4 separate regions of the Homo sapiens genome follow, and all the other regions are reported to be linked to region 2. The links are microRNA targets in miRTarBase. Many come from high-throughput screens and were not tested one by one. Region 2 holds a microRNA gene; each other region holds the end of a gene's coding sequence.

Evidence for each region. The annotated mature microRNA hsa-miR-655-3p reads AUAAUACAUGGUUAACCUCUUU and lies in region 2 at 3,081-3,102, shown strand. An mRNA with a match to its seed (bases 2 to 7 or 8) in the 3' UTR can be bound and repressed. Matches are read on the target gene's strand: a 7mer-m8 pairs with bases 2 to 8, a 7mer-A1 pairs with bases 2 to 7 and ends in A, and an 8mer does both.
Region 1: miRTarBase lists MAVS as a target of hsa-miR-655-3p. Seed matches in the 3' UTR shown: 8mer at 2,882-2,889 and 7mer-m8 at 3,005-3,011.
Region 3: the mRNA of CAPRIN2 is a reported target of hsa-miR-655-3p. Seed matches in the 3' UTR shown: 8mer at 1,269-1,276.
Region 4: the mRNA of CLEC4E is a reported target of hsa-miR-655-3p. Seed matches in the 3' UTR shown: 7mer-A1 at 4,930-4,936.

What each region holds. Positions count from the first base shown.
Region 1 is chr20:3,865,296-3,872,416 of GRCh38, forward strand. MAVS (mitochondrial antiviral signaling protein) reads left to right here. Exons shown (of 7, transcript NM_020746.5): 7 at 388-7,121. The coding sequence ends at 852. Among named protein-coding and RNA genes, the nearest start is that of PANK2-AS1, 20 kb to the right of the region's middle. RefSeq lists an enhancer at 717-1,218.
Region 2 is chr14:101,046,530-101,053,650 of GRCh38, forward strand. It overlaps MIR655 (microRNA 655), which reads left to right and starts at 3,021; the gene lies at 3,021-3,117. MIR381HG (MIR381 host gene) reads left to right here. Exons shown (of 3, transcript NR_104192.1): 2 at 4,538-4,740; 3 at 5,073-5,266. It overlaps MIR539 (microRNA 539), which reads left to right and starts at 792; the gene lies at 792-869. It overlaps MIR889 (microRNA 889), which reads left to right and starts at 1,372; the gene lies at 1,372-1,450. It also overlaps MIR544A, MIR487A and MIR487B. RefSeq lists an enhancer at 1-237.
Region 3 is chr12:30,703,789-30,710,909 of GRCh38, reverse strand. CAPRIN2 (caprin family member 2) reads left to right here. Exons shown (of 19, transcript NM_001385503.1): 19 at 440-1,357. The coding sequence ends at 1,008. Among named protein-coding and RNA genes, the nearest start is that of IPO8, 11 kb to the right of the region's middle.
Region 4 is chr12:8,528,821-8,535,921 of GRCh38, forward strand. CLEC4E (C-type lectin domain family 4 member E) reads right to left here. Exons shown (of 6, transcript NM_014358.4): 6 at 4,485-5,989. The coding sequence ends at 5,818. It also overlaps a transcript of CLEC4D not described here. Among named protein-coding and RNA genes, the nearest start is that of CLEC4E, 8.5 kb to the right of the region's middle.

The DNA.
Region 1 (7,121 bases), not on the chromosome of region 2:
GCTGTCTGCTGGGAAGAGCCAAGTCCATAGGGCCCTTTGGGCACATGGCCAGGCCTCTGACCCTGTGGCTGCTCTCTAGTTCTCAGGCCCAGGCAGGATGTCAGTGCAGGATGGAGCCCCGCCCTACCAAAGGCTTCCAGGTGGGCATGAGCTCACAGGCAGGCCAGGGAGTAGGGAAAGGCTGCCCTGGAGGAGGCCACCATTGGTGCAGATTCTTGGTCCCCTCTACCCCCACTGCTCCAAGAAAAGGTGGCCTAGGGGCATTATAGATTGGGAATTGAGGGGTTGGAGTGTTAGTTCATGCCCTGGCCTGGGAATGGGACCGCCCTACCAGGTTCGTCTCCCTGCCAACCCCAGTCCCTTCCAGTGCTCTCCTTTCTTTCCCAGGAGACCCCAGCAGCTCCAACACCCGCCGGCGCCACTGGAGGCAGCTCAGCCTGGCTAGACAGCAGCTCTGAGAATAGGGGCCTTGGGTCGGAGCTGAGTAAGCCTGGCGTGCTGGCATCCCAGGTAGACAGCCCGTTCTCGGGCTGCTTCGAGGATCTTGCCATCAGTGCCAGCACCTCCTTGGGCATGGGGCCCTGCCATGGCCCAGAGGAGAATGAGTATAAGTCCGAGGGCACCTTTGGGATCCACGTGGCTGAGAACCCCAGCATCCAGCTCCTGGAGGGCAACCCTGGGCCACCTGCGGACCCGGATGGCGGCCCCAGGCCACAAGCCGACCGGAAGTTCCAGGAGAGGGAGGTGCCATGCCACAGGCCCTCACCTGGGGCTCTGTGGCTCCAGGTGGCTGTGACAGGGGTGCTGGTAGTCACACTCCTGGTGGTGCTGTACCGGCGGCGTCTGCACTAGTGAAGCCCTGGGCTCTTCCCACCACCCATCTGTTCCGTTCCTGCAGTACACCTGGCCCCTCTCCGAAGCCCCTTGTCCCTTTCTTGGGGATTGTGGAGGCTGGGTCAGAGGGGAGTTAAGGGACTGCAGGCCTGGCAGCAGGACATGCCTTGGCTGAACCAAGTCCTGAGAGCAGCATCTCTGTCCCCACGGTGCCTTGTGTGGGTCCCCGTCCTTGGCTTTCTGGGTCCTGGGCTGCCCCCAGTGCTCCAGACCTTCCCCACTGGCAATCCAGGTTATCATCCATGTCCTCCAGAGGAGCTTCCTCCTCCAGGCCTCAGCCCTGTTGGCCCAGGTGGAGCAGGAGGGACCACTGGAACATGTGGTGCTTGGGAATGCCTCTCCTGTTGCATTGGTCCCTGAAGGCCTCAGGGCAGGTATGTGGTGTGTGGGCGACTCCACAAGACCTGCCTCCCATCCTGGCAGCCCAGCCTGAGACCGTTGCATTGAGGCAGGCAGGAGCGGCAGGGTGGCTGCTCTCCAGGAGCCCAACTGCCTTGAGTTCCTGCCCCACTGGGCCCCCTCCCCTGCTGGGCAATCCTGGGAAGGTCTGGAGGTTCCTGTGGACCTCAGGGAAGCCAGGGGCAGCTGTCAGGCCTGAGGAAGACCTGTGGAGCTCCTCTCCAGCCTCCTCTTTCCCTCCCCTCTGGTCTCCATTCTCTTCAGCTCCCTACATGGGCTGGGGAGGAGACACCTGGTGGGCAGAGCTCAGGCAGAGGTTTGGATTTCAGCTCCCTCACTTCCGGGGCTGTGTGGCTTTGGCAGATGTCAGACTTCTGGTCTTGCTTCTCCACGTGGACAGTGAGTATCTGGCTCATTCTTCACTGGGTTCTTCTGAGATTGAACCTACAGGTGTTTGCCAAGTGCCTGGCCCAGAGCAAGTGGCCACTGCTTCTCCCATCTCTCTCCTGCCCAACCTGGTAGAGCTGAGGGCATGAGAGGCAGAGTGCACAGTGGTCAAGGGTGCAGCTCTGCAGCACAGGCAGCCTAGGCCTGCGTCCCAACCTGCCTCTCACCAGCTCTGTGACCTTGGGCAAGGGATTTATCTGTCTGTCCCTTAGTTTTCTCACCTGTAAAAGGAGGATAAGTATATATATATATTTCCCAGTGTTGTGAAGATTAAAGGAGTTTATCGATGTAGGTCTTAGGATGAGTCCTGGCATTTACCAAGGGTTGGATATATGTTATTATCACTATTAAGTGTTGAGGGTCCAGGCATGCTGGGCAACAGGGACCCCATCTCTACAAAAAAGTTTAAAAAATTAGCCAGGCGTGGTGGTGCACCTGTCGTCTTAGCTACTTGGGAGGCTGAGGTGGGAGGATCACTTGAGCCCAGAAGCTTGAAGCTGCAGTGAGCTAGGATCGTGCCACTGCACTCCAACCTGGGTGAGAGAGCGAGACCCTGTCTCAAGAAAAAGAAAAATGCAGAGAAACAGGAGTCTTGGCTACTCCTTTAGAGGCAGACTCAGACCCTCCTGCCTCACAGCTTTATCTTTGTATTTGCCCCTTACTTTATCTTGTGCCTTGAGAAATTGCTGGGGAGAGAGGTATGTCCACTGGGCAGCTGTACAGGATGGAGGATATAGGGCGTTTCCACTCCCAGCAGCCAGGTTCCCTCACCCCAAGCTCACCCACTGTTGGGGAGATTATCTACAATAACACCAGAAACACATTGGGGTGGATTGGGGGTATCCTTATGGGTTCTTTTCAGGGAACCATTGCTGGACAAGGCACAGGAGCCACCTCCATTTCTGAGCTCTGCAAGGGACAAGAACTAGAGCCATCAGGGGCTGGGCTCACTGTGGCCCCACCCCAAGCCGTCAGCCTCCAGGGATCTACACCCTGCCTTGGCTGCTACAGCTTTTTCACTCCACTGCCCTAGGGGAGTTCAGCAACCTAATGATCTCTATCTCTGAACATCTCTTCATCCCATGCTCCAAGTCCAGCAACCTGCACCCTGGAACCAGGAGTGGACCCTACCCGAGCTGTCTGTATTAATCCCCATCCCCCACCACCAATCTTAAAAAGCCCTCTGTCCCCCTACCCTAAACCCCAGTTAGGTACCCATGCTGGGCAGGTCAGTTAACAATTTATGCACAGGTACTAGTTTTATTGTATTACCGTTCCAGGGTAGCTTTGAAAAAAGTATCTCAAAAAGGCAACATGGGCCGAGCGCAGTGGCTCACGCCTGTAATCCCAGCACTTTGGGAGGCCAAGGTGGGCAGATCGCCTGAGGTCTGGAGTTCAAGACCAGCCTGGCCAACAGGGTGAAACCCCGTCTCTACAAAAATAAGAAAATTAGCCAGGTGTAGTGGCAGACGTCTGTAATCCCAGCTATTCAGGAGGCTGAGGCACGAGAATTCCATGAACCCAGGATGCGGAGGTTGCAGTGAGCCGAGATTGTGCCACTGCGCTCCAGCCTGGGCGACAGAGTGGTATTCTGTTTCAAAAAAAAAAAAAAAGGCAGTATGTAGCCCCGAAGACTGTTGCCCAAGTGGTAGAATGTTAGCACACTACCAGCCTAGGTAAAAAATACAAAAAGTAACTGGGCATGGCGGCGCCCATCTATAGTCCCAGCTACATGGGAGGCTGAGGTGGGAAGATAAGTCACTTGAGCCCGCCAGGAGGCGGAGGTTGTAGTGAGCTGAGATCGCACCACTGCACTCCAGCCTGGGTGACCGAGTGATACTCTGTCTCAAAGAAAAAAAATTATAATTTTAGCACAGTAACCAGCCATGATGGGAGATACCCTGGGTAAGGCATGTAGAAAGGGTTGAGGGACCTTCCCAGTCCCCTAGCCCCGCCTCCCATCCTCCCATCTTTTTCTTTTTTCTTTTTTTTAGAGAATCACCCAGCCTGGAGCGAAGTGGTGCAATCATAACTCACTGTATCCTTAAACTCCCGGGCTTAAGCGATCCTCCTGCCTCAGCCTTCTGAGTAACTAGGACTTCAGGTACCTGTCACCATGCCTGGCTAATTAAATTTTTTTTTCTTTTTTTTTTTTGAGATGGAGTCTTGCTCTGTCACCCAGGCTGGAGTGCAGTGGCGCGATCTCAGCTCACTGCGACCTCCACCTCCTGGGTTCAGGCCATTCTCCCGCCTCAGCCTCCAGAGTAGCTGGGACTACAGGCGCCTGCCACCACGCCTGGCTAATTTTTTTGCACTTTTAGTAGAGACGGGGTTTCACTGTGTTAGCCAGGATGGTCTCGATCTCCTGACCTTGTGATCCGCCCGCCTCGGCCTCCCAAAGTGCTGGGATTACAGGCGTGAGCCACCGCGCCCAGCCAAATTAAATTTTTTATAGAGATGAGGTCATGCTGTTATGTTGCCCAGGTTGGCCTCATGAGATCTTGCCTTAGCCTCCCAAAGTGCTGGGATTACAGATGTGAGACACTGCACCCAAACCCCACCACTTTTTTTTTTCCTTTTTCTTTTTTTGAGACAGTCTTACTCCGTTGCCCAGGCTGGAGTGTAGTGGCATGATCTCAGCTCACTGCAACCTCCGCCTCCCGGGTTCAAGCAATTCTCCTGCCTCAGCCTCCCGAGTAGCTGGGATTACAGAGGCCTGCCACCACACCCGACTAATTTTCGTATTTTTAGTAGAGACGGGGTTTCTCCATGTTGGCCAGGCTGTTCTTGAACTCCTGACCTCAAGTGCTCCACCTGCGTTGGCTTCCCAAAGTGCTGGGATACAGGAGTGAGCCACTGCGCCTGGCTGATCCCAGCACTTTTCAAATGATGCCGCTCAAAGCCGTGACTTGGCCTACTTTGAACAGCAAACTTGTTGCTGCTGTTGTCAACCTGAAGGCCTCTCAAATGCCAGCTTCAAGCAGGGTGTGAATTGGCCAGTGTCAGATCTCAGGAGTCCTGTGTTGAGAGTGTGGCTTTCAGCTGCGGGGAGCTGCACTTGGTGGGGAAAGCCAGGCAGGTCACCCTCACAGCCAGATAATGTGGAGGTCAGAACCCAAGGAAGGGAGTGAGACCTCCACTCCCAGTGGGGGACCTGGCCACCCATCCTTGGGGACCTGAGAAAGCGTACTTCACCTTGGGGTGAAGGCTGGGTGGGGCCAGAGGGACCAGTGCCCTCCTCAGTGCTTAGGGGCAGAGCCACCTGCAGCAATGGTATCTGCATATTAGCCCCTCTCCACCTTCTTTCTCCCGCTGAATCATTTCCCTCAAAGCCCAAGAGCTGTCACTGCTTCTTTCTCCCTGGGAAGAATGCGTGGACTCTGCCTGGTGATAGACTGAAGCCAGAACAGTGCCACACCCTCGCCTTAATTCCTTGCTAGGTGTTCTCAGATTTATGAGACTTCTTAGTCAAATATGAGGGAGGTTGGATGTGGTGGCTTGTGCCTGTAATCCCAGCATTTTGGGAAGCCGAGGTGGGAGGATCCCTTGAAGCCAGGAGTTTGAGACAAGCCTGGGCAACAAAGCAAGACCCTATCTCTAAAAAAAAAAAAAAAAAAAAAAAAAAAAAAAAAAAAAAAAAATCTAGGAGATGCTCTTTACCCTGCCTGGCCTCAAACTATTAATAGCTTCCTTTGAGCAACATTATTTATTATGAACTTTCAAACACAAAAAAGTAGAGAGAGTAGAATAACAAATCCCCATGAGCCCATCACCCAACTTCAGTAATTATCAATTCATGGCCATCTTGTTCACCCCTGCCTGCTTCCCTGCTTCCCCTCATTCTGCAGAGGTTCTTTTCTTTTGAGACAGAGTGTTGCTCTGTTGCCCAGGCTGGAGTGCAGTGGTGCAACTTCGGCTCACTGCAACCTCCGCCTCCCAGGTTCAAGTGATTCTCCTGCTTCAGCCTCTCAAGTAGCTGGGATTACAGATGCCCGCCACCACACCTGGCTAATTTTCGTATTTTTGTTAGAGATGGGGTTTCACCATGTTGGCCAGGCTGGTCTCGAACTCCTGACCTCAAGTGATCCGCCCGCCTTGGCCTCCCAAAATGCTGGGATTACAGGTGTGAACCACGGTGCCTGGCCACTGTACAGGTTATTTATAGAAGTTGGAGAGTGAAGGGTTGAGAAAGCCAAGGGGCAGATGCGGGTCTGGAGGATTTTGTGCCTAAGGCCCTCTCTTTGCTCCCAGACAGCATGAAGTAACAATGAGGCATCCACCTCTTGGTTTTGTGGCCTCTGTGGATGACGTCTCTCACCTTGAACCAGTTCAGAGTTGGAGTAGCGCAGGATCCTGTCTTCAGAGGAGGGGCCGAAGCGGGTTCCTCTGTTGTCAAGCTCTTTGGAGGTGCCTGGCTGCTACTACTGTCCCAGAGAGGTGATGATGAATGATGGGTGTGTCCAGTGGCAGTTTGCCCCACTGAGGCAGGGGCTTCCACTAGGCCCTGACAGAGCCCTTCCAGCAGGCAGAAATCCCTGTGCTAGGCAAGATTCAAACTCCGTAGCATGTCTCCTGCTCCCATCTCTTAGGAATGGAGTCCTTCAGGCCTTGAGTCCCACATTTTCCATGATGCTCCATTAAGCAGCTGATAGCACCCCCACCTCCAGGGAAAGTGAGTTCAGAGTCCTTGGTCTAATGCATCTGTGTTGAAATTGAGGCCTTCCCCTGTGTTCACCTTTCTGCTCTTTTTCTTTTAGCCCAAGGCTATGAAGGCCTCATTCGGTGCTGGGCATGGTCACTCCTAGCATTCCTCACTCTGTTGCTAACAGCAACAGCAATAATAATAAGGGTTACAACTTACTCCATACCTTACTGTCTGCCAGGCATTAAGCTAAGTGCTTTACATATATTAAGTCATTTAATCCTCATAATGACCCTATGAAAGAGATACCATCTCAACCCAATTGACAGCTGGTTTGCAAGATTAGGAGGGATGAAGGACCCAGGGGACAATGCGAGGGAAAACTCTGACCCCGGGGCCCCAGGCTGGATGTTCTTTATGCCTGTGAACCACAGCTTATCACATGTCTGGAGTTAGGGACCCCACTTAAAGTGAGATTTTGGCTGGAGGTGGTGGATCATACCTATAATCCCAGCACTTTGGGAGACCAAGGCAGAAGGACTGCTTGAGGCCAGGAGTTCAAAACCAGTGTAGGTAACAGCTAGACCCTATCTCTACAAAAAATTTAAAAATTAGCTGGGTGTGGTGGTATGTGCCTCAAGTTCCAGCTACTCAGGAGGCTGAGGTGGGAGGATCACTTGAGCACAGGAGTTTGAAGTTACAGTGAGCTATGATGGCACCACTGCACTTCAGCCTAGGC
Region 2 (7,121 bases):
CAGTATCAAGAGCGCAGACTCTGGAGCTCGATTTCCTGTGTTTGGATCCCACCTCTGACATTTACTAACCGTCCAACCTTGGGCAAGGATCTCATCGTGCTGTGCCCATTGTCTCACATGTCAAAGGGGAATCACATTGGCGTCCATTTCTTGGGGCTGCTGGGGCTGAACGAGTTAAGACTTGTACACGGCTCAGAGCAGAGCCCCGTGGTCGGCACTTCGTAGGTGGTAGCCAGGACCCTTGTGTGCTGTGAAACTATCATTGGTGGTGGTGGTGGTGGTGGTGGTGGTGGTTTTATGACTAAAATCTCTCCATGGGTTTTTGGAACAGTGTCAAAACATGGAAGTCAAGTCCTTCATCGGGTATGGAATGGACTAGGAAGCCCAGAGCATACACGGTGTTTACAATGGGGGCTAGTGATGCTCTTGATGCTTGGCAGCTAAGCCATTCACACAGTGGCTTTTGATACAGAATGCCACATGCAGTGGGGGTCAGCAGGGGTGCCGAGAACATTTGCTCCACTTAAGAGAGACAGTCCCTGGGTTCTTGACCTCGGCCACTATCTACGCTTTGAAGGAGTCTTGAGCGAGGATGCCAAGCTGAGTGAGGATTCTATGGCATCTTGCTTCCCTGGTGCTTAAAGAGAGGTCAAACTTGGTGCATGCATTGTGCATGCCTGTGTGTGCGTGGTGTGTGTGCATGAGCGAGTGTGTGACTGGGTTTGCCACGAAGCAGTCACCATCTAACCTTGAGCCAAAGACCTGGAGGTGGTGGTCCGTGCTGCTGTTTCATACTTGAGGAGAAATTATCCTTGGTGTGTTCGCTTTATTTATGATGAATCATACAAGGACAATTTCTTTTTGAGTATCAAATCTTGCCTCGGCAGACTTCCTGGACGCCATGACAAGTTCTGTAAAGGGATGCACGCATCAGCCCTTCCCAGGGGCTCACGCCTGGGTGGGGATGAGGGCGCATGCAGTTGGTTTGTGGTGGGGACACTTGTGCCCTAACCTCAGAACCCTGGAGGCGGGGCCACGCTTGGCAGGGGGCCACGGGACTCCTTGGTGCTATCAGGGATTTGCATTGGCCATGGGTGTGTGTTGTGGGTGACGCAGCATTCAAGCTACTTATCAAATCCTGCTTCTTGGAGGCACTTCTTGGACATGAAGCAAACCTTAGGGACCGATCATTGGGGCCAGACCCCCTTCCCCTGCCCAAGAGTGTGACTGACCCCCAGGCATGGGCTTGACTCTCAATGTGTGAAGCTGACCTGCTAATCCTCATTGTTTGGACTACCTGAGAAGAACTTTCTGGAAGAGACACCAACTTTGGAGAAGATGCCCAGCTCTTCTTGATGGCACAGTTCTTTGGTGCTTAAAGAATGGCTGTCCGTAGTATGGTCTCTATATTTATGATGATTAATATCGGACAACCATTGTTTTAGTATCCAAATTTGCTTCAGAAGTTTTTGAAAGCACAGTGCTGACTTCAGTGAGGGGACATTGGTGCCTGCCCCACCATGGAGTGTGACTGTGTTGATGATTTATAATGATGAATCCAGTGATCTCAGAATGCAAGCCACCAGTGTGATTTCCTTGGACAAATGCTAGCTTTGGGGTGGAGATGCCATTTAGGGGCTTGGTGCCATATCTTTTTATTGGAAGATGTTCACAATTATTTCATCTCTCTTTCTCTTCTTGTTATTAAATCTTAGCCACGAGGAATTCCTTGGAGAGATGCCGGGGTCAAGCCTCTCTCTAGGTAGATGGTGGACCGGGGAACCTGGGTCCAGCCTCTCCTATCTGTAGCCTTCATTCTGAGTATGAAACACTTCCTGTAGGGAATGCAAACATTAGTAAAAACTCCGTACATTTCCTGTTACTATTACTACTTTTTGGCAGCTCCTAAGCAGCTGCCTGTTGGGTATTTGGATTATTCTTGGTGGACGTGGCATGGCTTCGTGCCTTCCTTGGGAACCACCCCATCTTAGACAGACTCTCATGGAATAAGACGTTGTGGTCGACAGCACCTCTGGGGTGTGTGTGTGTGTGTGTGTGTGTTTGTGTGCGTGTGCATATGAATAGTTGGCTAGAGTAGTGTTTCTCAAACTTTAAAAATGCTCCTAAGATTTTCATCACCTAGGGATCTTGTTAAAAAGCAGATTCTGATTCAGGGACCAAGATTCTGCATTTTTAGCAAGTTCTCAAGTGATGCTAATACCGCCGGTCTGTGGACAACACTCACAGTGGTTTGGGGCTGGAGACCAGGTGCTTTCCCTGTGATATGTGTCGCCTGTCTCCCCACATGCCATATACCGTCCATCGTGGGAGAACGGCCCAGAATCAACGTGCCATGTTTTGGTTTGTGAACAAGGGTTCACTTTCACATGCGTAAATAGCATGAGATTACTTTTCTTTAAAATCAAATCATGCCTCAAAGGGCTTCCCAGATACAAGACCTGCTTCAGGGAGGGGCCGCCGGTGTCAAGCTGCTGCAAGATTGTCGGGTGCAGGTCAACGGCACGCTTATTCATTATTGATGTGCTGGGCCCTGGAATTCTGTGACCCTCCGTTTCCAAGCAGTCATCGGGAGGAAATTCCAGGAACTGAGACCATCTCTGCGGTAGGGACCCTGTCTTCAGGGATCAGTGACACCCCATTTTATCGGAAACAGAATTCTTCATGATGGCTTTGCTTATCTCTGACATGCATTCTGCTGGTTCTCGTCATCAAATCCCGTCTTTCAGGAATCCGTGGAGGAAGCTTTCATATATTTTTAATGGAACCTGCCTTAGAAGTCTTTCTGAGCATGGTTCCAATGTCAGGGTTTTGACTTTGGTGCCAGGGCTGCCTGGGCCCTGAGACTGAGGTACGGGAATGGAAGGTCAATGCCAGTACGTGTGCTTTCTTTGCAGGATGTGAACACCTCCCTGCCCCAACCCTGGGATTCAGCTCATCCCAAGAAGAATCTTCTGGAAGCAAAGACAACGGTGGGGAAGAGGCCATGGTTTTCGTTTCAGAACTATGCAAGGATATTTGAGGAGAGGTTATCCGTGTTATGTTCGCTTCATTCATCATGAATAATACATGGTTAACCTCTTTTTGAATATCAGACTCTGCCTCGGAGGGCCGCCCCCACAGGAGACGTGAGAGTGTGTGCCTTGTGTGAGCTGAGAGCCCCTGCCCCGGCTCCGTGCTGCGTGAGGGAAGCTTCCTGGAAGTGAGGCTGGTGGAGGGAAGAGCCCTGGGTTGCTTTGCTGTGTTTGCTGTGAATGCGATGTGTTTTTGCGAGTTATGTGAGGTTCCCTCCTCTTTGAATGCCAACTTGTGCCTTCCCCCAGTGGCTGGGTCTGTGGCTTAGCCACAGGGCTAGGTCCCTTCCTGGACCCAGTGCTTTTCAGGGTGGGTCCCTGGGGGCAAGGACAAGGTTTACCACTCCACTGGGACACTTGAGGAGAGGTTAACTCCTCCATGCGGACTCCTTTGAGGACAGCCTGTTTTCCTCTCAGGGTGGCTCCCTGGATGAAGTCCAGCACCTCTGTGGGTGTGTGAAGGGCAGGCCGACTTGGGCTGTGTTCCCACTCCTCACCCAGGTCACTGGCCCAGTGCCACTTCCTCCTCAGGTCAGCTTCCCTCTGCCAGCCGACCTGGTGGGGTCTCCTGGTCCATTGCTTGGTGCTCATAGACACTGGCACGGTGCCAGGTTCCCTTCACTCCTTCCCGATGGAGACCATGCAGCTAATGAATCTTCGGCTCTGTGATGCTGCCTTGGAGGGCTTCCTGCACACAGCACCTGGTTTGAGAGGAGAACACGGACTCCAGCGTGTCCCCTGGTTATGGAGAAGGGAGGCTGTCCTTGATCCCCCGTTTGGTGGATGATATAGTTTGGCTGTGTCTCCACTCAAATCTCATTTTGAATTCCTTTGTGTTGTGGGAGGGTCCTGGTGGGAGGTAATTGAATCAGGGGAGTGGGTCTTTCCCTTGCTGTTCTTGTGATAGTGAATGGGTCTCATGAGAGCTGATGGTTTTATAAGGCAGAGTTTCCCTGCACAAGGTCTCTGTTTGCCTGCTGCCATCCACGTAAGACCTGACTTGCTTCTCCTTGCTTTCCACCATGACTGTGAGGCTTACCCAGCCACGTGGAACTGTAAGTCCAATTGAACCTCTTTCTTTTGCAAATTGCCCAGTCTTGGGTATGTCTTTATCAGCAGCCAGAAAATGGACTAACACAGTGGAGGGCAGTGGCACCAAGCCCCGCCCCCTTCAGGATGTGGTCCCTGTGTGGGGCAGCATCCTGGAGTGGCTGCAAAGCCCCACTGCTCTCTGCCTCCGTGGCTTTGTCCTATCTGAGGTGGCCAGTGCGCTGGGGTCCCTGTGTGGAGTCAGTTCTTTATGGGTGCCTGCAGGTGCCGGCTTCACAGTAAGAAAACTGTCAGCTTCGCCTGAGGTATGGGCACAGAGGTGACGCAGGGATATGAACTTTGTTGACGAATGTGTTCTCTGCACAGCTAACCCAGAGAATTCATTCCACCCTCAGGAGAAGCCCTAGAAGTGATACAGGCTCTGGCCGGGGGACCCGATGTGCTCGTGTCGCGGCGTGGGGCTTGGTGAGGAACCACCGGAGTGCTCTTGCATTTTTCATGACAAAGACCACACAGTTGGCCTCATTCCTGCACAGTGGGAGAATGTGTGGAGGTGTCCCGCCACCAGAGAGGAGGTCTATGTCAGCACCATCACCAGGTACCTGGGGGAGGGTCTGCTGACGATGCCCAATGTTCAATGGCCCAAGCAACCCGTCCTTGGGGGACTTCTGGGCAAGACCATTTCGGTGCTCAGCCCCACTCCGTGTCCCAGGCAGAGAGGGGGCTGAATTGATGATACCTATTAAATGGGTCATTAATTCTCATTATCCATGCAGCCTGCCCATGAGGGTCCCCCAGAAGGGAGGGCAACTCCGGGGAAAGGTTCTGGCCATCAGCACGAGGCCACGATCCAGGAGGTGCTGCAGAGCCAGAGGCCACAGGACAGATTATCAAGCCAGGTCACAGGCTTTCTCTGTCCTTGACCCTCAGCATCCAGGCTACCTACAAGAGGAGGCAGGGGGACTCCTCTGACACACCTGGGGAGGTCTCGTCAATGGCAGGTTCCCTCTACAATGCTTTCTCTGCTGCAAATGCAACTCAGCATCACCTCTTTCCTGGATATAATTCCAAGGAATTATTAAAGGAGGCATTGGTGTCAGCACCTCGTGAAATACTCGTAAGGATGACCCATGGCAGAGCCTGTGTCTTCATTGGAGTAAGACTCACATGCTGTGGCCTCCAGGCTCTGGAGGCCTCGGGGGCAGAGCAGGGTTGAGGCTGACCGTGGGGCCTCGCCTGGGTTTGTGGCTTATCATATTGGACCACTGTTTTTCAGGACAAACTCCCCGGAGATGTCCCCTGGCAGGACCCTGACCTGGAGGCAGGGTGCTGTCCATGATAGGGGAATGGATGGTTGATCAGAGAACGTACATTTTATAAATGGTGTATGTCAGTTGATCCACAGTCCCTACCTATCCAGTGACTTCTGGAGGCCACATCAGCTCAGAAGACAAGGTGGTGGTTTCCTAGGCCATGCTATTTTCTGGCACTTGAAAGGACCTTCTCCTTGCCGGGTTTGCTTTCTTTATGCCCAGTCTCATGAGGGAGTGCCTTTTTTGAGTATGGATCTTGCTGGGGAAGCTTTCTGGAAGGAGCTGTTGCCCTTCGTCCCTCTCCAGGGGCAAGAATGCATGGTTGGCTGGAAAGCAAGGGCTTGATTGACATTGTGCACCCCTCAACTCTCCTAACCCTCTGTCCCCAATTCATCCTCAGGCGGACTAGCTGGAAGGAAGGCAGACTCTGGTGAAGACGTGGGCCGTCACCGTCAGCCTTCGGTACTTGAAGAGTGGTTATCCCTGCTGTGTTCGCTTAATTTATGACGAATCATACAGGGACATCCAGTTTTTCAGTATCAAATACTGCTTTGGAAGGCTTCCCGGACAGCGTCCCGCCTTCAGGCAAGGGGTCTTGGCTTCACCTCCCACCCAAGGTATGTATGTGAACGGGCCATCGCAGTGCACTAGCTTCTTCATGTGCCACAGCCATGACCAGAATCGAATCTCTGAGGAAGATGGTTACTTCTAAGGCTGTGATTTTCTGGAAGGGGCTTTGGTGTCTGCACTACATTATTGGGGGAAGTTGACCAGTGAGAGGCCCATTCACACAAGACGTCTGTCACCTGCTCCAAGTGACCCTCACCCTTGGTAAGATGAATCTCTGGAGACATGCTGGCTCGGTAGTGTTACTGTCATCAGCCGGACTGACTGATAGGTAATTGGTCATCATTATTGCTTTTGTTCCAGGGCAGAATTTTTGAGTGCCAAATCTTGCCAGGGAAGGGTTTCTGGAAGCAGCACCGCCCTCTGGGGAGACTTGGCATCCACATCTGTTGGAGTTTGTGGAGAGTTAGTTGAGCAGTCTGAGCTTTGTTTCTGAGGCGTCTCCCTGAGCTCACTCTCCTGCCAGAGCTGTGTCCTGCCCATGGCCATAATGGCTATTGAGAGGGTTGGTGACTTTGGCCACCATGATTTTGTTTCGATAAAGTTCTCTCTTTTTAAAAAAATCAGATTCTTTTGTTTATAGCATAACTACATGGTTCATGAGTTGATCAAATAACAAGGAATGACTTGGTCATTCCATAAATAGTGATGGAGTGCACACTGTGTTCTAGGTGATTCTGGACCTTAGCAGAGAGCAGTGAATGAAATCAAGTTCTTGCTCATGTGGACTTTACATTCTGGTGGAAGAGACGGATGAGAACACATGAATTAGGAAGCGTAATTTTGTCCACTGCTAGGTTTTATGGGGAAAGGGAAAGCGGGTTACAGTGACAGAAAGAGGTAAAAGCAGGTGGACCTTTGTGTTAAATACAGGGGTCTGGAAAGCTCTCTCTGAGGATGTGGGTGGGAATGGAGTGGGGTGGACCAGAGGAAGGTCTGGGGTAGGAGCATTTCAGGAGGAGGGCAAGGCCCATGGAAAGCCCCCTGGCATCTTTAAGAAAAAGCAAGAAGGCCAGTGGGATTGAACCGAGCTGCTGGG
Region 3 (7,121 bases), not on the chromosome of region 2:
CTCTGAATGGCTAGTGGCTAGTAGTTCTAAAAATTGGTTCTTTTATGTAGTCTCCATTTTCTTGAGACCTTCTACATTAGGTGCTTTGTAGAATGACCTCTGAGAAATTAAGAATTATGGGAGGAAGATGAAGTAAAAAGTGTTCAGACCTGAGTTTTAGACTTTGCTAAGTTATCTGGCCTTTTGGGGGCCACATTTTCTTAATCTTAAAAAAGGATCAGTTAGACAAGATTATCTTGGACCTTTCTGGCTTTAGAAGAGTATGTAAAAACCTATTACCAGAAAAATCTAGAAAAGTATAATCTAGCTATATATTGCTTTTGTTTTGGAATTTACTATAAAATGTATCTTTGTCTGTTTCAGTAGCCGACTAATGTTAAATATTGTGTTCAAAGCTAACTGCTTCATTATGAGAAACTCACTGTTGCTAATAAAACAGCAGGGTGGAGTGATTCTTCTCAGGTGAGCAGCCCAGAAAGAGACAACGAAACCTTTAACAGTGGTGACTCTGGACAAGGAGACTCCCGTAGCATGACCCCTGTGGATGTGCCAGTGACAAATCCAGCAGCCACCATACTGCCAGTACACGTCTACCCTCTGCCTCAGCAGATGCGAGTTGCCTTCTCAGCAGCCAGAACCTCTAATCTGGCCCCTGGAACTTTAGACCAACCTATTGTGTTTGATCTTCTTCTGAACAACTTAGGAGAAACTTTTGATCTTCAGCTTGGTAGATTTAATTGCCCAGTGAATGGCACTTACGTTTTCATTTTTCACATGCTAAAGCTGGCAGTGAATGTGCCACTGTATGTCAACCTCATGAAGAATGAAGAGGTCTTGGTATCAGCCTATGCCAATGATGGTGCTCCAGACCATGAAACTGCTAGCAATCATGCAATTCTTCAGCTCTTCCAGGGAGACCAGATATGGTTACGTCTGCACAGGGGAGCAATTTATGGAAGTAGCTGGAAATATTCTACGTTTTCAGGCTATCTTCTTTATCAAGATTGAAAGTCAGTACAGTATTGACAATAAAAGGATGGTGTTCTAATTAGTGGGATTGAAGGAAAAGTAGTCTTTGCCCTCATGACTGATTGGTTTAGGAAAATGTTTTTGTTCCTAGAGGGAGGAGGTCCTTACTTTTTTGTTTTCCTTCCTGAGGTGAAAAATCAAGCTGAATGACAATTAGCACTAATCTGGCACTTTATAAATTGTGATGTAGCCTCGCTAGTCAAGCTGTGAATGTATATTGTTTGCACTTAATCCTTAACTGTATTAACGTTCAGCTTACTAAACTGACTGCCTCAAGTCCAGGCAAGTTACAATGCCTTGTTGTGCCTCAATAAAAAAGTTACATGCACCTTCAGTGTTCCTATTTAATTAAACATTTAGTTGAGAGGTAAAATATCTGCTTTTTAATAGTCATCACTGATAACTCTTGAATGGTTATTTCTTCATGGGCTCATGCTGTTATTTTAAAATAAGACATATATATATAACAGTTCCTTCTAGGGTTACTTTTCTCTGATATTATACATGCCATTCATCAAAACATTTGATCTGTTTTCCATGGGCCAAATCATGCATTCTTCTTGAAGCTATTCTGTTTTGCAGTAGGGCATGGGCTTCCTTTAGTCAGCTATCTTTGGGTAGCTACTACATGTGTAGTAATATACAATAGGAGATACACAGGTAATACTACTGGCCCACCATCAATAAGACTTACACTTTCTAGTGGATTCTCAATTTAATTTGAGCAGGCAAAATGCTAAGACATTGAAAAGCAGAGGCTCTGTGGTCAGGCAATGCTGTGTTTCAGAGTCCTGATTCTGCCACTTAGTAGCTAATCTTAGAGAAGTTATGTTACCTCTAAGATCTCTCTCTCTTAAATACTGTTTCTCAAATGTAAAATGTGAATGGATGATAGATTACCATCAGGACAATTGTGAAGTTTAAGAATATATCTAAAGGATTGAACGTAGTGCCTGGCACATACACGTTTAAGAAATGCAGTAAAATTTAGTGTTCGTTCTAGCCATATGATACTTTCTCACACTTAAAGCTTGTATGTCTTCAGTAATAAGGTTTTTTATTTCTCAGTTTAAATAATAATTTTTGGCCTGGTGCAGTATCTCACGCCTGTAATCCCAGCACTTTGGGAGGCTGAGGTGGGCAGATCACCAGAGGTCAGGAGTTCGAGACCAGCCTGGCCAACATGGTGAAACCCTGTCTCTACTAAAAATACAAAAATTAGCCAGGCGTAGTGGTGGGTGCCTGTAATCCCAGCTACTTGGGAGGTTGAGGCAGGAGAATGGCTTGAGCCTGGGAGGCAGAGGTTGCAGTGAGCCGAGATCATGCCACTGCACTCCAGCCTGGGTGACTGAAAGAGACACTGTCTCAAAAAAAAAAAAAGAATTTTAAAAAGTGAGCATTTTGGTTGCATTTTCGGGACTATATTAAGGGTTGCAGAAGGGCGTTATTACACATCAACTAAAGCAAGTAATCTGCTGAGGCAGAAAATAATTTGCCGGGTCTGACCCACAGACCCTGGCTGAACTATGGATGAAAAAATGTACCCTGACACAGGTATTTTGCCTGACAGAGTGATGAGGGGACTTCACTGCTCAGCACCGCTGACGAGAGAGTACAGCGAGAGTGAAGCCCCAATAAGCCAGCAATATTTGTATTTATTTAGTACAGATTTAATGACAAAAGCTTTGAGTCAACACACGTGTGGGTAATTAACATGCCCGCTCCCCTCCCCCACCCACCAAGAGAGCAGTCCTGTGCACGAATGATTAAAGGCCAGGTTCCAGGTTCCGAAGCCTGAGTAAACTAACTTACCTAGATCAATTCCTTTACATCCCCTTGTTATCTAACCTAAGCTTTTAAGAGAATTCAGCTGCCTTCAGCCAAATTGTCTTTTGAAGCTTTTGCAGAACCTCCTGGCCTTCCAAGAAGGTTTGCTTCTTTCTATAATTTCCTCTTATAATTTCTCCCACCGCCCTGTCTGAACTCCTACAATAATTGTTTTGATCCTCCTCTCTGAGGTGTTGAGTAATCTCAGGAAAACGGTATAACAGCATTACGTTTATTACAGTTGCTATTTTTGAGCTGGGTGTGGGTTCAGCAATTACACCCTGAAGCCATGTTTAACTCTCCATGGTGTTAAATGCTAGTGTAGTGTTCTCAAGATAGAATATGTGATTTGATTCAGTACCTCACATAACTTTTTCAGCTTATGGTAGGAATTTTGTAGGGTAGGGATAATAGTATTCCAGTTAAAAAAATTAGTTCATGGCTTTTATGTCCATAACACAACTAAAAAGCACATAGAAAAGTGGTAATATGATTAAATGATGGAGGGGAAAACTTGATGTTTAAGAACAATTGGTGATCAGTAGGGCCTTTCTCTAGCTGTGAATTTCGTACTGCATTAAAGTATTCAGCGTAGTTTTTTTCTTACACACACAATGTTTATTTAAAATACTCTGGGCAACTCTATATTTTTTTAAAGATAAGTGTCCAACATCAAGAGAGTCATTAATTAGGGTATCCCCTTATGGTAAGAGTCATATTTTAGGAGAGTATTTGAAATGTTACTTTGCTAAGTATAAAGATAATGAACTAGACATTTTTTGACTTATAAGAATGAATGGACAAGATATTTCATTCTGAAGCAGTATAACTTTGAAGCTAGTTCTGGAAGCTATTACTAAAAGCAGATGTCTTTACGGAAAGATGTGCACATACACAGAATTTACATACATTTGTAAGAGATAGAGTAGGGATCCAGAGATATCTAAAGTCCATTTATGGACCTTGTGGAAAGAACTTATGTTTTGCTGGGAAGATCTTATTGTAGATATGGCTTACATGGAGAGACATTCCATATAATTATTCCATATAATTATCTGAATATACAAATACTTAGTTGTTTTACTAAAAGCAGAGATGAGGGAGGTAAAAGAAGTTTCCTGTTTACTAGATTCTCCTCGGAGTTTTTTAAGTTTTTTAGTCTTTTATTAAGTGATGTCTCTCCTCCCTACGCCCAAAGTTGTGAGCCACTGACTTTTATCTCCTCTAAAATGATTTGAGTAAATGCAGGCATTTAAAGCAGGATTTTTTTAAGAGGTTTGCTCACTTGTTTCCTGTACTAGTTATCTGTCAACCATCCCATTTTTCTGTTTACCTTTCTCAATTCCATAATAGCTTTATTTTTACAATCCTATGACATCACATACTGTGTTTTTATACTCTTAATCTTTCCTGTTTGCACAGTTAAACTCTTTAGCTTTAATGATCAGTGTTCTATTGTGAGCCTTATGATAACTAGGATGTTATTTTATGTATTTTAAAGGTGAAATAATTGTTAGCATATACAGTGTTTCCATATTGCTAGGTACAGTGGCTTACGCTTGTAATCACAGCACTTTGGGAGGCTGAGGTGGGTGGATCGCTTGAGTGCAGGAGTTAGACCAGCCTGGGCAACATGGTGAAGCCCTGTCTCTACAAAAAGATATAAGAAATAAGCTAGGTGTGGTGTCGTGCCCCTGTAGTCCCAGCTACTCAGGAGACTCAGGTGGGAGAATCACCTGAGCCTGGGCGTTGAGGCTGCAGTGAGCTGTAATTGTGCCATTGCACGCCAGCCTGAGTGGCAGAATGAGACCCTGTCTCAAAATAAAATGTTTTTTTGTATGACTTATCTCCTCCTCTGCCAAATACTTTAAATAATTTTGATGAGAAATTTAGCTCTCTGGTTTCTCTACTTGCTACTCTATATCAGGGGTGTTCTTACTGACCACTTTCGTGATTAGGCCACAGTAGTTTTGTTCTCATTTCGACAGTTTACAGGTACAGCTCATTTGCTACCAGTGCAAGATATTGAATGCTAGATTATAAAATGATTGTATTCATTATTAATACCAAGAGGACTTAGCCTCAGTAATTCTGTTTCTCAAGCATTACTCCTTTATTCATTTTATTTCAAAGACCCTAAACTTTGGTAATGATTAGTCTTTCAAATATTTGGGTTATCTGATTTGTATCTGACTCTGGGACTACAAAGATGAACGACATTCAAATATTCAGACACCTCAGGTGTGTCCATTTCACCCACTGAGAGCAAGTCTCTTTAATTATTCATTTGATTTTTATCACACTTTTCCTCCTCTCTGTCTGAAAGTGTTACTATTCAAAAACTAGATTTTTGGATCACTTCTATAACTTCCTTATCTTTTCTCTTGTTTCTGATTTTTATTGGGAGATTTCTTTGACTTTATCTTCCTACCTTTTTATGAAGTTTTAAATTTTCATTAACATTCAAAATTTCTAAGTAGACCTGTTATCTGAATGTTCATTACATACAGTTGTCCCTCAGCATCCATGGGGGATTGTTTCCAGGACCCCTACAGATACTAAAATCTGCAAATGCTCAAGTCCCTGATACAAAAGGGAGTAGTGTTTGCCAATAACCTCCACACATCCTCCTGTATACTTTAGATCATCTCTAGATTATAATATGCTGTGTAGATGCTATGTAAATAGTTGTTATACTGGATTGTTTAGGGAATAATGACAAGAAAAAATGGTTTGTACATGTTCAGTACAGAAGCAAGCATCCTTTGTTTCCCTGAATATTTCCAATCTGTGGATGTGGGACCTGTGGCTATGGAGGGCCAACTGTGTATGCTGTTCTTGTTTCATGATTGTGTTATTTTCTCATTACTCTAAGGATAGTTTTTTAAAAGGTTTTTTTTGCCCTAAGTAGTCTATTTACTACACTTTTTCTATTCAATTCACTTAACTGCATTGTTTTATTTGCTCAGAATCTTGTGATAATTGGCTGACTGTTTAAGAATGGAGCACCAACCCCACACCTATTGGGGGGTCATCCTGGAAGGACATCCAACAAAGTTGGAGACCCCAACTCTGGTATGGGGTGTGGGGTGAAAAGCAGGTCAAATTCAGGTTTCAAGACAGGCCAAGCTCAGTGCATTTTCTTGTCCACTGCCTCAGTTTACCTACATTCAGAAGATGGTCCAGGAAGAGTTGAGCAGAGTTGGCTCCAAAACATTAGGGTGCTAACAGCAAAACAATTCCAAGACTTCATCTTGCTGTATGCCAAAATAATTTATCTTGAGAGATGGGGATGAGTGGATGGTGGGTGCATGGTGGAGCTCTGAGGAGCCCGGTCCAGAGCCCCATCTTAGGGGGATACAGAGGACTTCCTGCCTGCTCACGGCCCCCTCTGGCCCTCACTTGGCGTGCACAGGTCACCATCCATAGCAATGATGCTTCATGGGTCCCGAGGTCTAGGTGAAGGGGAGAACTGACCATCCTATCCCAACCTCCTGGGGCTTCATGCTTATGTTCTTATTGAAGAAACACAAAGCCCTCGAGATTCATGTAACTGTATGATGGAGAGAAAAAAGTACCTAATGTTTCCCAAAAAAGGCAGTATATTTTGTACTTTGTAAAGTGTTGATTAAAATGAAGGGGAAAAAAACAGGAAAAAAAAAAGAATGGGTCACCAAAAAGATGACTGGAAGCTTGAATGTAAAAGGTAGGGCTTACTCATTTGGGGCTTCATGATAGCATTATTTTTTGTCAGGGTAGGGAACACCAATGTAGGGGTATGGAAGAGCATTCTAAGTGGGACACAAAACCCAGAAGCCCTAAGGATAAATTAAACACACATAATTTATTCCCACAAGACTTTTGATTGGAGGAAAATATCAGCATCAGAAGACAAAATGGCCACCTGCAGTGGGAGGAAATCAATAAATAAAAAAGGGCAATGAATGTGAAGAAGCAGTTAATACATGAAAACATTTTCAGTAAGCGTATTTAAGGTTTTAAGGCACATACTTTGGCAAGCATGTGGGGAAATGGGCATTCATGCTGTAGTTTGGAATAAAATTAGTCTATTTTTGGAGAGTAAATTGGTAATGACTGTTAAGGTAAAAACACACACACACACACACACACACACACACACACACACACACACACACTTTTGACCCAGAAATTCCGCTACTAGGAATTTGCCCTACAAATAGTAGAACAGAATCGATAACATCTCATTTGTGTGAAAAATCGTAAAAGCATATATCCGATTGCTT
Region 4 (7,101 bases), not on the chromosome of region 2:
ATACTATATGTACTACATATAAAGTGTATAAGAATATATACTATATATAAACTATGTACTATACATAATAAACATATAATTACATACATGTTATATACTAAACATATATAGATATATAATCCACATTTTAAATATGAATAGAAATATAATCTACATATTCTTAAACATTTGCATTTTTTACTTAACAATATAGTTTTGATTTATATCTTGTTCTTATAAGTGAATAGCATTTATATTGCATTGTTGCAACATAATTTGAAATAACCTTAAAATTACAAAATATTTTCTTTTTTAATAACACTTAGCAAAGTAATGGCTGTGAAGCAAATCACCAGAGCAATCTCCGTTCAGATTGGGAAAGGAAGGAAATTTTCCAAGGAAGATTTTTTTCCCTACAAAATTATGGGATAGATGGAATGCATTTGAATGAATTGAGAGGTGATATACATTTCTGAAGAGTTAAAAGGTGAATTATGTCAGTACGCAGAAAGCTAGATAAATATAAAAAAATGGGTCCTGTATGGTGGCTCAAGCTTGTAATCCCAGCACTTTGGGAGGCCAAGGTGGGAGGATTACTTGAGGCCAGCAGTTTGAGACCAGCCTGGGCAACAAAGTGAGACCCTGTCTCTACAAAAAATTAAAAAATTAGCTGTGTTTGGTGGTGTGCACCTGTAGTCCTAACTACTTGGGAAGCCGATATGGGAGGATTGCTTGAGCCCAGGAAGTCGAGGCTCCAATGAAGCCATGATTGTGCCACTGTACCCTGGCCTGGGGACGGAGTGAGATCCTGTCTCCAAAAAAAGAAAAGATGTCAATATTAACTCCATAAAAAGCAAAATGTAATTAAAAATATGTAGTAAGAATACAGCAAATGGTTCAGCTGTGAATAATATTTACATATTCATACCAGTGCAAATGTTGAATACTGATTTTTAAATAAATGATTATATAGTGATAGCAGGGGGATGGGAAAGAGAGAGAGAAAGAAGACTATTCTTGTTTTCATTAGTGTGGAGCTCATAGAAATTATCTAAAACTGAAAAAAATCAAGGAATTATAGTATAAACTTTTGATAGAAATAGAAACATGGAACTCAATAGAAAAGAAGCATCTAAACGGTTGAATACGATTGCCACTTAGGTGTGGGAATCAGAAGTGGGCAGGAAACAGCTATTTTTAATTACAATCCTCTAGAAGAATTTGTTTTTTTAAACAATGTGCATATATGTACATAGTGTGCAAATCTATTAATGTAATTAATCTTATCAACATTTTAAAAGAGCTGCTAAAGCATCATCTAGTAAAATCAATAAACCACTTAGTGTTAAAACATTTAACAAAGAAGAAATGAAAGGAATTTTCTGCAGGATGTCTACCCCAAACCTGTAGCAACTATTAGATTTAATGGTAAGCCATTAGAAGCATTTTCTTTAAGTTTAAGAACAAAACTATAGCAGCTTTATGCAACAATATGTTGGCATTCCTAGCCAGCTCAATATGACCAAAAGAACTGGAAGGGAGTTTTAAAAACCCACAACTATCATTATTTCTAGACCAGAACTGTCCCAGGGAAATATAGTGAAAGGCAAAAATGTGAGTTGCATATGTCTAAATTTTCCAGTAATTATATCAAGAAAGCAAAAAAAAAAAAAAAAGCCCGAAGAAGTGAAATTAATTCTAATAACTTATTTTATTTGAACAAACATATCTAGAATATTATCATTTTGACATGTAATCCATATAAAATTCTTAGTGACATATTTTATATTCTTTTTTCAAATTATCAAAAAAACTAGTGTGTATTTTACACTTACAGAATATCTCAATTAGGATAGTGCTTAATAGTCTACTGTGGCTGGTGGCTACTGTACTGGATAGCTCAGTGTTTTAGACAGTATAATTATCTACACAGAAAATAAAAGGGAATGTATGGACAAAATGTTTTAAAAAATTAGGAAAGTTAAACAGTGTTTCTGGATAAATTATTATTATACAAAAATCAACAATATAATACTCTGCAAAATGTACAAAATAATATTACACTTACAATGGCAATACAATTCTAAGATACCCAAGAGTAAACCGTGCGAAATTTTAAAGTTGGTTGCACGACATATATGCTGACCCGCTCAGGCTCTACCTCTCCATCCTGTGCTGAATGACCTGTGTGGACATCCACCTCACCCTGCCCGGTGCCCTGTGGCCCTCCTAGATAGTCCTCCTGCTTCGGCTCAGACACCTTTGCTCAACCACCCCCACGTATGGGCGTCCTCCTCACTCTAGCTCAGGCTTTGAGACTTTGGGACAGTCCAACCCCCACCAGGATGCCCTGCTGAACCCACTGGCGTTCTGACATCCTTACTGTCTCCTGCTTCCCCCACAATCTCCCCTTTACACTGTCTGGGATCTAACTCTCTGAGGGGTAGTCATGCGTCCCTCTCCCCCTCCCGCATATACATGCACACACGTATAAAGACCACCTTGCTCTGCTCCACCCACGTGCAATGATTTTAGGAGTCATTATCAGGAAACGGAAAGGTAGAAAAGGGGATTGGGAAACAGGAGAGCAAAAACATTTGACTTAATTGTTGATTGTTTATAATTTTTTGTTTGTTTTGTTTTGTTTTTTACTTCAGAGGGACCTTCTGGGAAATAACTCTTTTTCATAATCTATAAAGGCTGTAACATTCTTGAACTCAGTAATTCTTCAATTTCACTTCAATTTTTTAAACGTTTGAGGTAATGAATGTGCTAATTACCCTGATTTGATTAATATAGAGCATACACATGTATTGAAACATCGCATTGTATCCCACAAATGTGTACAATTATTATGTGTCAATCAAAACCAAAATAAAATTTAAAAAATTAAAGTATTATCTGTTGTATAATTCCTTTCTAAAAGTGTGTCAATGCATGTGTGTATGTGTGTATACATGTAAATATATATATATATTTGGGTTTTTTTAACTCTTTGTTTTTCCATCTTTTCATCTAACTCTTGAAGTCATAGGGGAGAAAAAGTAACATCTTTTTCTCACCAATTGCAAGGTTCATGGCTGAGGCCCTTATAACAAAACACAAATTAACAAGAGAAAACCATACAGATGTATTTAACGTAAGTTTTACATGACATGAGAGCCTTCAGAAATGAACACTCAAAAAACAGAGAAATCTATGTAAATTTTGTGCTAAGCCTCATGAAGTGGATAGTTGTGAAAAAAAAAACATGGTTAGACAAAAAGCGATATGATCTAATGATAATAACCTAATGAGACTTAGCAAGGCCTGTTTGTTCAGGTTCTTCTTGGCTTCCCTGTACGACATTCTTTCCTTTTGGGTATAGAGCAGGACACCTGTCATAGGAGAGTGTTCAGAGGAGAAAGGAGGAAGAAGGTCAGAGATGACCTTCCTAGATGCTATGGCCTGCTTCCGGTAAGAAAGGCAAGAGAAAGATGAGAGTGGACTTCCCGTTTTTGCGGTTTTCTCAGTTCCCAAGGTGCCATATTTTGAGGTAGCATTTCCTGCACCCCATTAAAGGCATAAAAAGTTTCCTGGAGTGACGTTCATGATAATTATTACTGCAACGTGGAATTGGAATTTTAAAAATTTTCATCTTTCTATAATTGTGATCTGTAGGAATTTTTGGTAATGAACATGTATCATTTTTACAAAAAATAGTAATTTTTCTTTAAAAAAATTGGGGACCCATATAGTAATATGTAAATCTTAACAGTAGTTTATTTTGGGAATATGCTTTTAAGAATATGTATCATGAATTAATCTACTATTCTTTGAAAATGTCTGGGTTTTCTGGTGCCGAAGGTGGTAAAGTGTTTGTGTAACCCCACTTATAAGATATTATACTTTAAAACAATTTCAATTGGATGATCTACTTCTCAAAAAATAATTTTCCTAATAGATAATTTATGTTCCAATAATCTTTAACCACTAAACCCTTAGCAATTCTTTCTTTTCTTGGCAAACTGTAAAGACAAGTTTAGTTTTATAAACCTGTCTTTAAAACTTGTCTTTAAACTTAAATTCTAAATATATATGGAGAAATAATATGGAATAATATTTCCATATGTCTTTCAATCTAGAAATAAAACTTAAATTATAGCCACCTTCAGGGAAACACCAATGAACAAAAAAAAAGTCTTTCAGCATCTCCTTATTGATGTTCATGATTTTAAAAAAGGGAATTAGAAAGTTGAAAGTATGTTTAAAATTACTTTTAGGTTAAATAATTGGCTTAAAGATGTGTTGATTTGAAAACCAGATTGTCACAATGCCTAAGAGAAATAAACTTTTGCAATGAAAGCTGATGTGTTATATTCACTTGTCCAGTTGAATTTTCTCATTCAGTGATTACACGTGGTGTCCAGTGATTGAATTTTGAGGGTCTCCTCATGGCACTTTGTGCAAGAAACATGGTTATGAAAGCTGCCACGTTATTGATGTACTCTTTAATAACGTCATCAGTATTGGTAGAATTTTATGCAATAAATGAATGGGCTATTACTGGATACATACTCAGAGAAATATAAATCTTTCTACCATAAAGACACATGCACACGAATGTTCATTGCAGCACTATTCACAATAGCAAAAACATGGAATCAATCTAAATGTGAGTCAACAATAGATTGGATAGAGAAAATGTGATACATAGATACCATGGAATACTAAGCAGCCTTAAAAAAGAAGATTATGTCTTTTGTGGGAACATCGGTAGAACTGGAGACCATTATCCTTAGCAAACATGGGAACAGAAAACCAAATACTGCATGTCCTCACTTATAAGTGGGAGCTAAATGATGAGAATTCATAAACACAAAGAAGGGAATAACAGACACTGGAGTCTACTTGAGGGCGGAAGGTAGGAGGAGGGAGAGGAGCCGAAAAAAACAATATTAGGCACTGGGCTTAATACCTGGGTGATGAAATAATCTGTACAACAAACCTCCACGACATGAGTTTACCTATATAAAAAGCCTTTAACATGTACCCCCGAAAGCTAAAATAAAAGTTAAGAAATAATGGATGGGCTTGAGACAGGAAAGTGTGGAGATGAATGTTCGCTTAGAATAAATTGACTATTGGACTCGGGTCCTAGCTGAGCAATAGATACAAAATCTGGTGAGATCCATTCAGTCAATTGAAAATAAGGCAGAGCAAAGGAAGCCCCAGGGATGGGTGGACTTGGTTACAGCCTGTTTGGAGCTGATGGCTGGCATGCCCTTCCCTAAGAAGGTGCAGTGGAGGCCTGTAGCCAGAAAGGCCACACCGGTATTCTGAGCAGGAATAAGTTTCATGACTTGAAGAAGCTTCTTACTCATTATACAGGGGAGTAAAGAGACGATATATGCTTGGGCAGGAGATAAGAACGGTATGAAACCAAGAAGAGAAGACAGACTTGTCAGAAGCTAGAAAGAAGAGGACCTGCTACAGAGCCCGGATTCAGGAGATTTTTGGAAGGCACCTTCCAAAATCCCCTTCTTTGCTAGACTCTGTCTTGGCTCCGTGTCCCTGTACTTTCATACGAACACTAAAAAATGAGGCAAATGTAGCAAAAGGTAGTGAATTGCTTTGTAAATTCTGGGAAGAGGACCTGAGACTAACGTAGAGAGAAAATGCACTTCAGCCAGTAACATGAATTATAACATTTAAAACTACTTATTTTTATTTATATCAGAGTAACAAATACTTATGAAGTCCTTTGAAGTTCAGCGCACAAATTTCTCGTGTGGGGCGGTGGGTGTGGCCATGTTCTTGCTCTTCCTTCTTTACACATTTGAGTTGTGCCTTCTGTTCTTAAAGAGATTTTCCTTTGTTCAAAGGATTTATTCCTACCATTTCACAAATCCGAAAATAATTGAGGAAACAGGTTACATCATTCCAATTTTGCCTTGGGTTTGAAGAGTCTCTCATGGTGGCACAGTCCTCCAGGGTAGCTATGTTGTTGGGCTCCCCTACATCCCAGAAGCTGAAAAAGAATGACATAGGAGACTTAAAATCCCAGCAAAAAGAGGTAAAGTAACCTAATATACTAGGCAAATTACATTTGTGTTATTTAACCTCACAACAATTTTGCGAGGTAGGTATTATAATGTCCATTTTATTGAAGAAGAAAAGGAACCTCAGGAAGCTAAACTAGTTGTCGAAGTCACAGTTTGTGAGTACTGAAGCTGAACCGGATCTTTCTGACTTTCTATTCTGTCCTGTTCCTTTGTTCCTTTTCTATTCTGTCCTGTTCCTTAGCTATAGAATGAGAAGTTATGGGGAAGATTGATATTCTGATAGATTTGTTTTCTTCACACTCATACCTCATATCGGCTTAGCTCTCTTTATTCTGCACAGAGTGTGTATTAACTTAGGTGCATCCTGCAGTGATGTTACAGTGTGGTAGTGAAGCAGCATTTCTAACATGTCAGAGTATCTCTGTTGTACTCTTAGAACTGCTCATTAGCTAAGTCACTTAACTCTGCTGAGTTTTAGTTTCCTCAAATGCTAAATAAAGATTAATAATACTGATACATTCCAAGAAAGTGTAATTTAGGTAAAATGAAATAATAAATGAGAAAAAAAATTAAAAATGCTATGCTCTATCAGGAAGAATACCTAATGGATGCTGGACTTAATACCCGGGTCATGTTATGATTTCTGCAGCAAACCAAACCACCACGGCACACGTTTACCTATGTAACCTGCACATCCTGCACATGTACCCTGGAACTTAAAATAAAAGTTGAAGAAAAGAAAAAAGAAAAAACTCACTCCCTAACAAATCATGAGAATCAACATATATAGCAAAATATTTTATATATCAATTAACCAATCTAACAAAAAAAGCATATCCACAATAAAAAATGCTATGTTCTAATGACGTGAGGCTATTATTAAGGAGAAAAGAGACATTATCAAGAGATTCTCATTTTTCACTGCATAAGAACCTGCTGTCTTTCTCAACTTACTATTTTTTTCCTCATTTCCTTCAGTTTTGGGGAATAAGACTCTTAATTCCACCTCTCGTCTCTTTTGCATTCTCAGTGAATGATTCTTCAGTTCATTTTCATTTATTATTTCCCCTTTATTCTT